Linked DNA regions of Homo sapiens: region 2 is linked to region 1. The links come from fine-mapping of genetic effects on gene expression. A gene starts in region 1. The other region holds a variant in brackets. All regions are shown on one strand. Distances are from middle to middle.

Region 1 (2,896 bases):
CGGCCTCTCAGTTTTTTCTGAGTTCCCCAGGCAGGAGGGCGTTGGCAGAAAGGCCACCATCTTGCCCCGGCGGCACCCGCCCAGGGGTGGTGGGACCCCGGCAGCAGCACCGGCCAATCTAGGGACCTGAGGAAAAACCCCCAAGATGCCCACGAGCTGTGTGGCGGGGGCACAGGCTGAACCTCTGCTGGGGACTTAGCATCCTAGACTTCCCCGAGTGTTCCCCACCCACCCCTCAAAAGCATCTGTGTTCAGCCTGCTGCCTCCTGGAGAAACAGGGAAGGACCCTCTGGAGAGACACTGGGGAGGCCAGGGACCACAAAGTACATGGCATGCGCCCTCCAAATGGACCTGGCCCTCCCCCTGGCCCTCGTGGGCACAGTCCTGGCTTAGTGAGGGGCCTGGTCCACCCTGCAAACCAACAAAGCTCTGGGGACAGAAATCGCAGTTCTCCAGAGCTCTGTGTGAGGCTGAGCCAGGGTGACGCATGTGTAACAGTGTGAGCACGTGCACGGGAAAGGGGGCCCGCAGGGGGACCCTCTGCTTCCTAGTCTTTGGCCTGCAGCATCTTAAGTTGGGGCCCCTCCCCACCCGTCTAAAGGTGCTGTGTGTGCCCGTCTGGGTGAGAGCACAGGGCGGGGTGCAGTCATCCCCCTCCCCCAGGCCAAGCCCAGGATGTGGCGCCCACCCACAGATGCCGCAGCCTGCGGGGGGTGTGGGGGCGGGGGGGCGGGGAGTCGTCTTGAATCTGGCTTGTGTTCAATGACCAGTGTTGACCACGGCAGAGCAGCACAAGCGGGAGGTGCTGACGGTCCCTGGGCGCAGCGGCTGGACGCTGGCGGTCCGAGCAGCGCATGTGCCCTGCTGCCCGCCAAGGACCCAGAGCCCCCTGAGCCCCCGCCCACCACGGAGCCCTCCCAGGGGTGTAGGGCCCGGTGGCGGCGCGCTTGGGCTTTTCTAGCCATTGACGAACCCCGTCCTGTTTTTCGGAGTTTTGAGGGCTCAGAGGGCCGCGGCGGGAGCGGATCGCCCTCCCTACCCCGCACCCCCGTCCCAGCCTGGGCCAGAGCCGCCGCGGGTCCCGGCGCGGCCGGCAGGGGGCGCGCGCGGACAGACGCCTGCACCCGACCCTGGAACTGGCGTCTTTTCCTCGCTAATCTGCGAGGAAAAAAAAAATGTTTTTCAGGGCAACGCGAGGGAAGAAGGTGGCGGCTCCCACTCGCTTCTCCCTCGGGTCGGGTCCGAGCTGCCAGGCCGCATGCCACTCCCTGACGGGGCGCGGACCCCGGGGGGCGTCTGCCGGGAGGCGCGCGGCGGGGGCTACACCAACCGGACCTTCGAGTTTGACGACGGCCAATGCGCCCCCAGGTACAGTCTGCTGCGCCCTCCCCACGCGGGGAGGCCCCGGTCTAACCTAAGACCCCCAAGTTCCCCCTCAGGCTCCCGCACCCTCCAGGACCCGCCATTCCCAGGGCCATCCAACTTCCCCAGGACCCGCGAGTGCCCTCCCAACCACCTTGGGGAACAGGGGCGCCCCTCAGGGTGGGCCGCACTAATCAGCAGGTGCCGAGGCAGCAGCGTCCGTCCCCATCTGTCCTCGACCTGGTAAGAAGCTGGGGGGAGCGGCCGTGGCTACATGGGGGTCCTGAGCATCTCCCAGGTGTGGGGAGTGGCAGGGAGGCTGGGGGCGGTGCAGGGCCTTCCATCTCCCCCAGCCCCTGCCCCACCCCAGCTTGGGGAGGAAGGTTCCATCCTTCTTGTGTGGCATGGCAGTGCTCGGCCAGGGTGGGGTGCCCGGCGAGGTTACCCCACACAGTAGGGGGTTTCCAGAGCAACCTTCCAAGGAAGAGTCCCCAGTGGGAAGTGGGCTAAGTGGCTGTCAGATGAGGGCGGGAGTCCTGGGTTCTGGTCACTCCTCGTTCCCCGCTGGCCTATCCCTGGGAGGAGAGGGCCAGTTGAGAATGGCATTCAGGTGACCTGGAGCTAGCTGTTCCCTGTGCAGTGTCCTGGGATGCCATGCGTCTGCCGTCCACCCAGTGACCAGTGCAGAGGCACGGACCGGCAGCTGAGTGGGACAGTCCTGAGCGGAGGTTGCCCCAGGGTCCAGGTTCCCCATCCTCTCCCCCATCCCTCAGCTCTTGAAAACAGGCAAGTCTGCCCCTCACCCTGTCCCCAGAGCCAGACTCCAGGGAACCCTGGGCAGAGCCGGTCACTGCCTTGGGCGAACCCCTCCCCACCAGGACAGAGCCCTTTCTTCTGGATCCTGCCCAGTCTCAGGCTGTCCTGAGGCCAGAGAAGGGGGTGGAAGAGCATACCTGAGAGCGGGAGGCCTGGTGCGGCTGCCTGTTTGTTCTATGGGACTCAGTTTCCCCGAGTGTAAAATGAGGAGGTAGGGCGGATGGTCTTTAAGGGCTGCCTCTGGTGAGGGACCAGGCTGGAGAGGAGGTTCCCAGAATCAAGAGGCAGGCACAGCACCCACCTGGCACCCGGGGGAGTCCGGGGTACAGCGTGTGTGAGGAGCAGGTGCTCTGAGGGTGGACAGTGACTTGGTGATGTCCTTGGGAAGTGGGCACAGCCTGGACGTGCTCTGAGGGACTATCCGGGGGATGCCTGTCAGGCACAGAGAAAATGACCCCAAGGGGGTCCTGGATTGCCCTCATCTTTGTGGGCTGGCCGGCCCCTACCATCTCCCTCCCCAGCCTAGCGTTGCCCTCCCTGGCCATTCTGCTGGAGTTTATCACCTACCCTGCTGGGCCTGACCTGCTCCAGACGAGCCGGCAGGACAGTGTCCTCAGGGTCCAGCCTTTAGCTCCAGGCCTCATCCTCCGGGTCCTTCCAGACACCTGTCTCTCCCAATTGGCCCTGCCCACCGGCCCGGGACAGCTCCTCCTCCCCG
Region 2 (2,896 bases), 79 kb after region 1:
TGCTCTTGATGGTGGAACCAGGAGATGGAGGCAGGGCGTTTCCCTGACCGCGTGTGAGGCACTGGGAATGTGGCCCATAGCAGCCTTCCATCTCCCTGAGCAGGGACCAGGCCTGGCCGTATCTGGAGGCCAAGGCCATCTGTCCTGGCATGGTCAGTTGGTCAGAACTCCCGTGGGGAGCCCTCAGATCGGTGGTTCCACATAGGTTGGCCAGTAGCTCTTAGTACAGATAACGCACACGGCTGCACCATTCCAGACTTCTCCGCTGCCCTGGCCACTACGCCCGACCTTGAAACAGGTTCAGTATAACCACTGCCTCCTTGTATTGACAAGGGACGGAGGGCCTGAGAGGGAAGGGGCCTGCCCCGGATCGCACAGTGGAGCAAGTGGCTGAGCTGGAATTGGCTTTCTGCCCTTGGAGCTCCATGAAGGGCACCACCCAGGGTCAGGTGTGGAACCCAGGGGCACGGGCACTGTTGCTGTTGCCTTGATATCTGGCTGACCCCAGCCCCACCGCATTCCCCACCTGCTCAAGCTGGGACAGCACCACCTTGTCCACACGGGGGCTGGTGCCCAGGCAGCCCTAGGCTGAGAGCAGGGAGCAGGCACCTTGGTCAGCAGCAATGCTGTCTGCTCTACACGAACCCCGAGCTCACCGGTCTGGGCTGAAGTCCTCATCGGCGAGCTGCTGGGACCTGCGTGGCTGCAGGATTGTGACACCGTGGAGGATCTACTGAGCCAGGCCCGGCCTGGCCACCAACACCAGGCAGAGGACACACACGGGCACTCCCTGCGACACGGACATGGCTTTGTCCCACCTGAACCCGATGGAGAGTGAAAGTGTGTTCCGGCCAGCCGTGGACCAAGAGCCCATAGGGATCCTGGAGTCAGTTCTGCCCCAGAGAAGCGAGAGGAGGCCGGGCTGGGCAGCCACCAGGTCAACAGGGGCTTCTGCCTTAGAGATGCCAGCCTGAGGCGTAGGGGGATGCTCGGGCACCTGGTCTCAGCACAGGAGAGGGCTCTGTCTGCCCTGCCCGCCGCCCAAGCCCACCCTGGAGCCTGCCCTGCCCAGCGTCGGGAGCTCCTGGCCCCAGTCCCCGGCTCAGCCGGCAGAGGGGTGTGCTCTGCAGCTGGAACCACGGAAGGGGAGGAAGTTCACAGGATTCTGTGTTC[G/A]GGTGCCGGGCCGCTCCCCAGGGCTGGGAGGACTCTCCGGATCTGGAAGACCAAGTCTGACCCTGTGTGGACAGGGATGCTGCCGTGGAGTCGGGGTCGAGGCAGTCATCCTGGCGCGGCTCCTCCGGCCTCAGCCTTGCACCTCTCTGTCCCACAAGGTGGCTTGAAGTTTGGGTCAGCAAGCACGCAGCCAACACGCTCCTGCCCGCCTTCCCGCCAGGCAGCCATCGCCAATCACCCACGCTCCGCCCCGCCGTGGGGCCCATCTCTTTCCCCGGCTTCACCTCCACTGGGGCTCTGTGTTGCCGGGGCGGGTGCGGCCAGCTCTCCATCTCAGAGCAGTGAACAGTCCTGGGCTCCAGCTCCAGTCATGCGATTCCGTGGCAGTTGTGTGACAGGGACCAAGGAGAAATCAGGACATCGGCAAAGCCTCTGGAAGCAGCCGTGAGCTCCTCTGGGCTGACATGGTGCTGGGGTCCATGTGGGACAGATGCCCTGGGCCCTGGGCAGGGCCAGGCATATACAGAGACGTGGAGCCGAGGGAGGAGAGGGTGCCGTGGACCACCTGACCCATCACCCTCTGCAGAGGCTGGGATCCGCCTCCCCAGCATGCAAGGAGCCTGTAGAAGGCACCAGGGGCTGCGTCTTCTCCAGCCTGGGTGGCCTTGGCCCCAGATCCCCCATGGGTCTCTCTGACGGGCCAGCATACGGTGACCTGCTTCCAACAAGGACACCTGTGGCAGCTTCAGATCCTTATTTAAAAGACATTAATGCCAATTTATTATAAAAATGTACATGTTTAGTATGTATTTTACTTCAAAGAATACTGAAAGTAAAAAAAAAAAAAAATTGAAGAAAAGTTACCCCAAATCCCTGCAGCCAACATCTTCTACATCCAGGCCCAGTGGAAGGATAAAGACAGGATTCCAGGCACGACTCCGGAAGGAAAAAGGGAGGAGGTGGAGATGGCATACACGACCGTCAGTGAGATGCTCTGCCAGGTGCAGCGGCTCATGCCTGTAATCCCAGCACTTTTAGAGGCTGAAGCAGGAAGATCGCTTGAGGCCAGAAGTTCGAGACCAGCCCAGGCAACATAGCAAGTCCCCATCTATACAAAAAATTTAATGGCTGGGGGCGGTGGCTCATGCCTGTAATCCCAGCACTTTGGGAGGCTAAGGCGGACGGATCACCTGAGGTCAGGAGTTCGAGACCAGGCTGGCCAACATGGAGAAACCTCTCTACTAAAGACACAAAAATTAGCCGGGCGTGGTGGCTGTAACCCCAGCTACTTGGGAGGCTAGGGCAGGAGAATTGTTTGAACCCGGGATGCAGAGGTTGCAGTGAGCCGAGATTGTGCCACTGCACTCCAGGCTGGGCGACAGAGCGAGACCCTGTCTCAAAAAAAACCAAGCAAAAAAATGAAACTATTATTAAGGATGCTGCTGGTGGGGTGACATGCATCTCCCCTTGAGGGCTGGCTCCAGAAGGCTCTCAGAGCCCCGGTGTGTGAGAGGAGTCTCTCCCCTGAGGCCCACCTCCCCTGCCGTCCACCTCCCCTGGTCTCCAGCACCCAGGACTCCTCCACCACTTCATTGCTTTCACATGGTCAGCCTGTGTGATCTCTCCTCCTCACCAGGAGCCTTCCTTCAGGCTGGCTCTGCCCATCCTGGGGCTGCACGGTGCCTGTCCTGCTCCCTCTGACCGGGGGTCTCGTGCTCAGGAA

Evidence for each region. PIP is the estimated chance that this variant, and not a neighbour inherited with it, causes the effect.
Region 2: its variant is the best candidate, but not a certain one, in a credible set for the expression of KCNT1 in hippocampus (GTEx, PIP 0.61).

The regions. Positions count from the first base shown.
Region 1 is chr9:135,701,001-135,703,896 of GRCh38, forward strand. It overlaps KCNT1 (potassium sodium-activated channel subfamily T member 1), which reads left to right and starts at 1,185. Exons shown (of 31, transcript NM_020822.3): 1 at 1,185-1,368. The coding sequence starts at 1,259. It also overlaps a transcript of SOHLH1 not described here. RefSeq lists a silencer at 984-1,113.
Region 2 is chr9:135,779,633-135,782,528 of GRCh38, forward strand. The region is part of intron 24 of KCNT1 (potassium sodium-activated channel subfamily T member 1); the gene reads left to right. Among named protein-coding and RNA genes, the nearest start is that of KCNT1, 79 kb to the left of the region's middle. The variant G/A (reference allele first, on the strand shown) is at 1,174.